Regions from separate parts of the Homo sapiens genome. Here region 2 is linked to region 1. The links come from fine-mapping of genetic effects on gene expression. A gene starts in region 1. The other region holds a variant in brackets. All regions are shown on one strand. Distances are between the middles of the regions. Region 1 holds the start of ANGPT2 (angiopoietin 2). Region 2 overlaps MCPH1 (microcephalin 1).

What was found. PIP is the estimated chance that this variant, and not a neighbour inherited with it, causes the effect. A credible set is the group of variants that fine-mapping cannot tell apart.
Region 2: its variant is the best candidate, but not a certain one, in a credible set for the expression of ANGPT2 in tibial artery (GTEx, PIP 0.51).

What each region holds. Positions count from the first base shown.
Region 1 is chr8:6,561,124-6,566,123 of GRCh38, reverse strand. ANGPT2 (angiopoietin 2) reads left to right here and starts at 2,879. Exons shown (of 9, transcript NM_001118887.2): 1 at 2,879-3,477. The coding sequence starts at 3,190. The region is part of intron 12 of MCPH1 (microcephalin 1); the gene reads right to left. RefSeq lists enhancers at 3,010-3,536, 3,537-4,062 and a silencer at 4,922-5,000.
Region 2 is chr8:6,491,234-6,496,233 of GRCh38, reverse strand. The region is part of intron 11 of MCPH1 (microcephalin 1); the gene reads right to left. Among named protein-coding and RNA genes, the nearest start is that of ANGPT2, 70 kb to the left of the region's middle. The variant G/A (reference allele first, on the strand shown) is at 2,050.

The sequences.
Region 1 (5,000 bases):
AAGCTTTATTGGAGCCCAGCACGCTCACTCAGTTAATGCTGTCCCACAGCTGCTTTGCACCGCATTACCTTTGAGTGGTGGCGATGGTGGCCGTATAGCCTGCAGAGCCGAAAATAATTACCATCTGACACTGGACAGAGTTTGCCAACTCCGGCTCTACTAGAGCTTCCCCTGACTCTCTGGTTCCGATAATTTCCATTTAGGAATCTACAAAGAGCTGTTCCTTCCATGTTCGGAACTTGAGGGAATTTGAAAAGGATGGAGTCCATGCCAGCTGCACATGGCATATTGTGCACCCGGAAGCATCACTGTCTTTCTTTGTGCTCCGACTGCTCTCTCTTACCACATCCAATTTGTTTATGGGTCTCTCCCTCTCCATACACTATTAGCTTCTTTAGGTCAGACACCCAGTTGCCTTAATCTCTATCCCCAGTGCATAGCATGGTGTCTGACACAAGGCTGGTAGACAAAAAGTACTGTGGTGTGCCCTCTTTCTATTTGTTCCTTTTAAACTACTCTATTTGCCTGGAAGACAACTGAATGACTTTTAAAACCATATATGCAGGCCAGGTACAGTGGCTCACACCTGTGATCCCAGCACTTTGGGAGGCCAAGCAAGAGGATCATTGGATGCCAGGAGTTCAAGACCAGCCTGGGCAACAAGAGTGAGACCCCGTCTCTACAAAAAATAATCTTGAAAAAAGGTAAAACCACATATGTGATATTAATACCTTACAATATGCTTTTTCAAACAGGAAATAAAAAAATTGTACCCTATGCCACTGCCACTGCTTTGCATTCAGAGAATAGCAGAGTTATACTATTTGATGGTGGAAGAACTGATCCCCATTTAATGGAGCATGCCTGTAAAGAAAAGGAACAAATATTTCTAAACATACAATTATATCTTAATCCTAAAAACCCTACAGAGAAAAAATGATCTCCATCTTATGACTAGGGAGACTGAGGCTCCAAGAATGGAAGCATTTGCTGGAGGTCACACAGAAGCAGGGTTCTAACACAGGTCTCATCTTTAAGACCTATATGCTTTCTTCGACGGTGCACTGTCCGGATGGGTATAGCATCTTTAATTGGTTCCCTTAGTGGAAACCATGTCCAGAACCTTGGTGGAATCATACTACCTCTTCTACTAATGAGATCCTTCCAGAGCATGTCTTCCAGCTTTTCTGTGTGACAGAACCCTTTGGTTGTCTGGTGAAGCCTATAAACACCTTCTCAAAAGAAGACACATGCTACTTTATTCCAATGTTCAGTAGCAAGATCTAGGGCTGGGTTTAATAAAAATGTAGTTCTGAGTATTGTGGCAGCAAATAAAAAGAGCTGATTTCTGAGGATGAGAAAGTCACAGATATTCACACTGTTGTTCGTTAACTATTCATTGATAAGGGAAAGGCTGTCTTTCGGTTAGAGCTTAGTAAAAAATAAAGATCTTTTATGGGTAGATGTGGTCTGTTAAGTCAGTGTACCAGCTATTCAGCGCTCACTGGGAATAATAAACCTTGTACCTTGAGAGATAAACCGCAGCAAAGGCAGGGGGCTTTTTCCCTATGTACACTTGGGCTGCTGAGTTAACATATTATTAATCTCTGAAGTATTAAGTTTTAGTTGTTAAAGGAAGTGACTTGCAGAACTTACAGAGCCATAGGATTGAAGGTGAAAAATCTTGTGAGTGCACCCCTTGAATTGCACAGATGAGGACATTAGAGCTTAATTAAAACAGGGAAGTGACTTGCCCGAGTCTAATACCAAGGGGGACTAATGTAATTGATAATGTGTTACAAAATGCTGAGATGTCAACAAATTCTGACACAATAAAGAAGTTTGTGGGCCAGGCATGGTGACTCACACCTGTAATCTCAGCACTTTGGGAGGCCAAAGGCGAGTCGATCACAAGGTCATGAGTTTGAGACCAGCCTAACATGGTGAAACCCTGTCTCTACTAAAAATACAAAAATTAGCCGGGTGTGGTGGCGTTTGCCTGTAATCCCAGCTGCTCAGGAGCCTGAGGCAAGAGAATCACTTGAACCCGGAAGGCGGAGGTTGCAGTGAGCCAACATTGCCCCACTGCACTCTAGCCTGGTCGACAGAGCGAGACTCCGTCTCAAAAAAAAAAAAAAAAAAAAAAAGTTTGTATTCCTCTTTCTACACAGGCACTTAAATTCTAATTTCTCTATTGTAATGTAATGAACTTAATCAGTACAGTGTATTTTTAGAGTGAATATCCAAGTGGAGTTTTTTTAAAGAATAAAGGTCAGAGCTCAGAAACTGATGTTTCTAACGTGACTTAATAACAGATCTTTCTATCCAACTGTTCGGAAATGAAAATCTTTTGTAACTTGGCTAGTGGTTCAAGAATCAACTAAAATCAATGAATCTATTTTTCCCTCTGAAAAGGCACACGTTTACAGGAGCCAAACTTCTTCCTCTTTATTTGTAATAACAAAAATAAACCGAAGTCCTGACCTATTTGTAATATTTTTATTCCTAAAGGAAAAAACAGGAACTTTCATTGTACTTCAACATTAAAGTTATTACCTCAGATATTTTGCCAGCTTAGCACGGCAAAAATCAGTTTCAGACAAAAGAGATCAACTGCTCTCTCTAGGAAATACTTAATTGGGGTGGTGCCTAGGAAATGCCCAGGGGTCCTGTAACAGATCGGTTTTTCCCAGAGGGTTTCTGCAGCATGGGTCCTGGTTGGAGGGCAGGCATTCTGCTCTGATTTTTCCTGTTGCCTGGCTAGTGACCCCCTACAGGAAGATAACGGCTAAGCCAGGAGGGCGGAGCAGCCCACTACACATGTCTGGCTGCTCTTATCAACTTATCATATAAGGAAAGGAAAGTGATTGATTCGGATACTGACACTGTAGGATCTGGGGAGAGAGGAACAAAGGACCGTGAAAGCTGCTCTGTAAAAGCTGACACAGCCCTCCCAAGTGAGCAGGACTGTTCTTCCCACTGCAATCTGACAGTTTACTGCATGCCTGGAGAGAACACAGCAGTAAAAACCAGGTTTGCTACTGGAAAAAGAGGAAAGAGAAGACTTTCATTGACGGACCCAGCCATGGCAGCGTAGCAGCCCTGCGTTTTAGACGGCAGCAGCTCGGGACTCTGGACGTGTGTTTGCCCTCAAGTTTGCTAAGCTGCTGGTTTATTACTGAAGAAAGAATGTGGCAGATTGTTTTCTTTACTCTGAGCTGTGATCTTGTCTTGGCCGCAGCCTATAACAACTTTCGGAAGAGCATGGACAGCATAGGAAAGAAGCAATATCAGGTCCAGCATGGGTCCTGCAGCTACACTTTCCTCCTGCCAGAGATGGACAACTGCCGCTCTTCCTCCAGCCCCTACGTGTCCAATGCTGTGCAGAGGGACGCGCCGCTCGAATACGATGACTCGGTGCAGAGGCTGCAAGTGCTGGAGAACATCATGGAAAACAACACTCAGTGGCTAATGAAGGTAGGAAAAAAATCCATCTGTCTTTGTGAACATGCTATTAAGATCAGCTTGGCAGCAGCTCAGGTTTTAACAACCAAAAAAAAAAAAAAAAAAAGAAGGAGGATGAAGAGGATTAGAGCTGGAGAGCGGGTTGCTGGTACCCTCAAATGAAAGATAATTTCTTTTATTCTATCCCAGGGTGTGTGGGTAGTCCCCGGGGTGAAAATAATTATTTGGAAAGAATGCCAGAGTCAATACAGAAAATCTCTAAAGTTAGAAATCTTTATTAACAAGGTAGAGGAAATATACTTCCCTGCACAACTTGTGTGCCGTTCTGTTTGTTTACATCGTTTAAGCTCAGTAACACCCATCACCAGGGAGGCTCTCAGCTGGTTGCAGGCAAGTGAGGGAAGGCTGTGAGCCGCAGCAGCCCGTGAGCCAGAGAGACCGTGACAACCATGCTGATGACCGAGGCATAACGGATGGAGTAAAGTGCTTTACCAATTTCCTGAATTTATTTACTAAAATAGGTTGTGACTCTTGGTAAACGAGAGGAAATTAAATAAAGCAGACCTTATGTTTCTCAGAATCTCAGGGCCCTACCACTAAGGGCTTGCCGTCTGTAAACAGGGGCACAGTTCCCAAGCGTCCCAGAGGTATTCAGCACTGCAGCCCCCGTCAGTTCCAGCAACCGGTGCGGAATGCGTCCCCACGTGGGACGGTTATGTTCAAGTCATGCCACGACAGGACGGTCTGTCTGACAGTTTGTTCTTGGGGTGATTCCACTGTTTCACAGATGATCCCACTGTTTCCTAGAGTTTTTATGGAGACGTAACCAAAATAGGATATTGAAAGCTCTGTTTTTCTTTCATAAATAATTTTTTTTCACATGTAAACATGGGAGCTATTTATACAAAATCCAAAACGAACCTGGAATTTTCTTTATATGGACTATATATATTCTAAAGGAAGTTTAAACAAAATGCATAAATTAATTGTTAAGTAGCATGATGATGCCATTACATCACAATGCTTACATGGCAGGGAATGTGATTATCTAAAGCTATGTAAAGTCTTTTAAAAGTTGGTGAGCCTCATTTGACGCATGACCCTAGAAAAAGCACAATTATTTTCTCACTCTTTCATTTCACCATAAACCTTTTGTTAGGACACCTTATCTGAATCTCAGAACGGATCTTGGAGCCTAATCGGTGCTCCTCATTACCTCCCCTACCTTCAGAGAGGAAACGACTAAGTTATTATTTGAGTCATGAGCTTAAATGAATGAATGTGAATGAATGTTCCCAGCACCACTGGTTACTGTGTCAAGAGGAGTCATTTAAAACAACAAAAACTTACCAAAATGACCTATCAAATGTAGATTTCATGTGACATAAAACTCACTAGCAATGTCTTTTTAAGCTCCTGGCTAAGCGCTCCAGTAAGTTTCCCTCCTTTCCCAGGTCACTGTGGTTTGCTTTTAAACATCTTCTAAAATTCATAGCTGTGTGAATAATTACGCTAAGCTTAAAAAGTATGCAGCA
Region 2 (5,000 bases), 70 kb after region 1:
ATGCTCCTTATGAGAATCTAACGCCTGATGATCTGTCACTGTCTCTCGTCACCCCCCGATGGGACTGTCTAGTTGCAGAAAACAAGCTCAGGGCTCCCACTGATTTTACATTACAGTGAGTTGTATAATTACTTCATTATATATTACAATGTAATAATAATAGAAATAAAGTGTACAATAAGTGTAATGTGCTTGAATCATCCCAAAACCATTCCTCCCTCACCCTCCCAACCCCCAAGTCCCTGGAAAAATTGTCTTTCACAAAACTGGTCCTTGGTGCCAAAAAGGTTGGAGACTGCTGGTATAAAATATCACTGATTAATTAAAAATCAAATCTGATAGTTAGAAACTTGTCCCACAGTCGTAAGCCATAGGAATGTAGTTGATTTCAAACAGTTCAAAAGTATGTTTTACATTCCGCTTTACTGGATGATACTTTAGGAGTAAAGTTAGACACATCTTTACTTTAATCACTGAAAGTGATTGGGGTGTTTTTGCCACTATCTCCTCCATCCACCCTTCACTCCACCAACTGTGGTAAAAAGTGTGGTTGTAGGTGTTTATGGAAGGTGTAGAAACACATTATTTATTATAAGCGTAACAAAAGTAATAATTATTAACTTTTTACTAATTTAAGCTGACAAAATTATAAAAATCAAATTACAAAGATTGTTCTCATCAGATTTTATAGATCCTTTGTCTTAGTAGTTAGGGCAATTGATTTTCTCAAACAACATTTATGAGAGTTTGCTAGTTTGTATGCTGTTTTGGATTTTTCTAAAGAAAGAAGAAGATTTGGGATTCTTCCCCAACTAGACAGTGTAACATACTGGTTAAAAGCACAGAATTCAACAACTGGGTTTAAACCAATGTCCATCTTTTTACAGATTTATGACAAGGGGCAGGTTAGTGTTTCTGCCACATGAAGACATTATGCATCATTATTAACTAAAAAAGCACCCATGTAGTTAATGAAATAGTGTAGCAATGAAGTTATTTCTAGGTTATACTGAACTTCAGGAGAAAAAATTGGGGATGTCAATAGTATAATTTTTAACAACAAAATAATAGGGTACTTATGTCCAAAGCATTTTCAAGCCAGAAAATAAAGGTCTAGTCTTCCAAAGAGACCAGCTTGAACTGGCAAAATTTCAAGCCAATAATATCTGTTCCAAAATAAGCTATTCTTCTGTATTTCCAACACATCTCATAACATCAAGAAATGCTTCCTATAATTCCATAAAGTTCTTTTAAAAATACAAACCTATTTAGTAGTTGTAGTGGTGCCTTAAAGCTATTTTCCATATATGACTTTTTTTAAGTGAGGTGAAATTGGCATAATATACAATTAACCATTTTAAAGTGTGCAATTCAATGGCATTTTATATCATGATGCTGTGCAACCAGCTCCTCTTTCTAGTTTCAAAATGCTTTCATCACCCCAGAAAAACATCCTGTACCTGTTAAGTAATCACTCCCCATCCCTCTCTCCCCTCCATCCCTGGTAACTTCTAATTAGTTTTCTATTCTATGGATTTACCTATTCTGGATATACTGTCTGAAAGGAATTATACAACATGTGCTTTTTGTGTCTGGCTCCTTTCACTCGGTGTGTTCAACGTTCATCCAAGTTATACTTTTAATGAAGGCTAGTGATCAGCGTCAAAAATGCTTGTTGAATAATAACGATATTTAATATTTATTGAGTGTTTACTGAGTACTTTATTTAGGTGATCTTTCCATTCTTTTACAGATAAAGAAACTGCCTTACCCAAGGTTACACAGCTACGGTGTAGCAAGGTTAGCAGTGAAATCCACTGCCTTATCCATTAATCTTTTCAAAACACACAGGCCATCAGAGAATGCCCATATCAAGGTTTACAGCTATAGAAGATAAAAAATACTCTCTAGGCTATCTTTGGAAGTAGATGCTAGAAAGAATGTGGGCTATGAATTGAGGAAGAGCTGAATTCAAATTCAAAATTCACCATTTCTGGCAGGATGCAGTGGCTCACATCTGTAATCCCAGTTCCTTGGGAGGCCAAGGTC[G/A]GCGGATCACTTGAGGTCAGGAGTTTGAGACCAGCCTGGACAACACGGTGAAACTCTGTCTCTACAAAAAATAAAAATTAGCCAGGTGTGGTGGCATGCACCTGTAATCCCAGCTACTCAAGAGGCTGAGGCACAAGAATTGCTTGAGCCTGGGAGACAGATGTTGCAGTGAGCCAAGATCGTGCCACTGCACTCCAGCCTGGGCAACAGAGCGAAACTCTGTCTCAAAGAAAAAAAAAAAAAATTTACTATTTCCAAGCACTATGACCATGAGCAATTTACTGAAAGTGTTCAAGCCACAGTTTCCACAGAGGATTACTGTCTTGACTAACAGCTTGACGATGTGTAAAACACTGACAAAGTAGCTCCGCATCTCTAAATGTTCCATGTGACTAACATCATTGGGACGCTGTCTCATCTCCACCCCCGAATACGACAGAGATCCCCGGTCATATTTTGTATCCTGGGGACCTAATGCTGGGTCACAGGACTAGCAGCGTGGACCTCACCTCAAGCCTGAGCAGACCCAGACCCACTGAACCAGGATCTGCACTTCAGTAAGATCCCCCAGGTGATCCACACATTAGTAAGGTTTTGAAAAGCACTGCTCTAGCTGTCTCATAAAGAAAGGGGCAGGAAGCTAAATATCTAACACAGCCTATTCAACCAAGAAAGGGAAGATAAGCAATAAAGTACTAAAAGTATATAGTTAAGAACCCATTTCCCTTTTAGAAGACATTGACCGATAGAGACTGAATTCCAGGTGGTGAGAGGGAAAACAAGCTGCATGTTGACCTAGGCTTGAATATTCTTATGAAAAAGCTCACCTCAATTGAACACAAACATTTAAGTTCAATTTATTCTCCTTGCATTCTACCTAATCCTTTCCAGTTTTCAAAAATGAAAATGGGTGATTCTCGATGTTAAGGCTTAACTGCTCAGTAATATTCACTTTATAAATACAGCTAAGCAATGACCAGGAAAACCCAGCATGTCACCACTGTACTCACATGTGAAGTCCAAACATCTTTATAAATAACTAAGTGCGTACTTCTCTTATCAAAAGGAAAACAAAGAAATAAATATAACAAATTCCAATGCAACTAAAATAAACAGCAGAAACATCACTTCACTGTATGAAAACACAGCAGAAATTATTACCAACACAGACAATAAACCAAATATTATGGCTACTAAGAGCAATCACTATTTTTTGTTCACATTAAGGGCAAAAGCACTTGACTCTGCCATAGCCTCCCTAGAGCCACGTACCAGGAAGTAGACAATAGTATTTACATGGCAAAGCGCAGTATGCAGTCTCTGTACTACCCAAGAGTACAATAATTTAACAATAATCCTTATCAGTTAATCAATTAATTACTTAACTCAATCAATAATTCAATAATGAAAGATTATTAATTTTATAATATTAAATAATTATTATTAATATTTATTTGATAATTTAATATAAAATATTTATTTTTAAAAAAATTTTAAATTTTAATATTCTAAAAATTTAATATTAACTATTTAATATTAATATTATTAAATAATTGTTATTAATGATGAATAGCATAGAAATATGCTATTTCTATAGCATAGAAAACCTTGGCAATAATATTCAGGACACAGGCATGGACAAGGACTTCATGTCTAAAACACCAAATGCAATGGCAACAAAAGCCAAAATTGATAAATGGGATCTAATTAAACTAAAGAGCTTCTGCACAGCAAAAGAAACTACCATCAGAGTGAACAGGCAACCTACAGAATGTGAGAAAATTTTTGCAATCTACTCATCTGACAAAGGGCTAATATCCAGAATCTACAAAGAACTCTAACAAATTTACAAGAAAAAAACAACCCCATCAACAAGTGGGCGAAGGATATGAACAGACACTTCTCAAAAGAAGACATTTATGCAGCCAACAGACACATGAAAACATGCGCATCATCACTGGCCATCAGAGAAATGCAAATTAAAACCACAATGAGATACCATCACACACCAGTTAGAATGGCGATCATTAAAAAGTCAGGAAACAACAGGTGCTGGAGAGGATGTGGAGAAATAGGAACACTTTTACATTGCTAGTGGGACTGTAAACTAGTTCAACCATTGTGGAAGTCAGTGTGGCGATTCCTCAGGGATCTAGAACTAGAAATACCATTTGATCCAGCCATCCCATTACTGGGTATATACCCAAAGGACTATAAATCATGCTGCTATAAAGACACATGCACACGTGTGTTTACTGTGGCACTATTTACAATAGCAAAGACTTGGAACCAACCCAAATGTCCAACAATGATAGACTGGATTAAGAAAATGTGGCACATATACACCATGGACTACTATGCAGCCATAAAATATGATGAGTTCATGTCCTTTGTAGGGACATGGATGAAGCTGGAAACCATCATTCTCAGCAAACTATCACAAGGACAAAAAAACCAAACACCGCATGTTCTCACTCATAGGTGGGAATTGAACAATGAGAAGACATGGACACAGGAAGGGGAACATCACACACCAGGGCCTGTTGTGGGGTCGGGGGAGTGGGGAGGGATAGCATTAGGAGATATACCTAATGCTAAATGACGAGTTAATGAGTGCAGCACACCAGCATGGCACATGCATACATATGTAACAAACCTGCATGTTGTGCACATGTACCCTAGAACTTAAAGTATAATAAAAAAAAAAGAATACTAGAAAAAAAAATACATGTTCTGAGCAATGCTTTTAAAGCTAATTGTCCTTCTGTCCTAATAATAATCTTTAGCAGCTAAAAAAAAAAAAAAAAAGAAAGAAACCATAGACTCTACTTCTGTTTATCGAAGTAAGTGGTAGGTGTATTCTCCATAAGTGAGACATTATTCTGGAATTGTGTAAATTATTCACCAAACATTGCAAAGCACTCTGACTTCTCAGAAATACTTTAATTGTA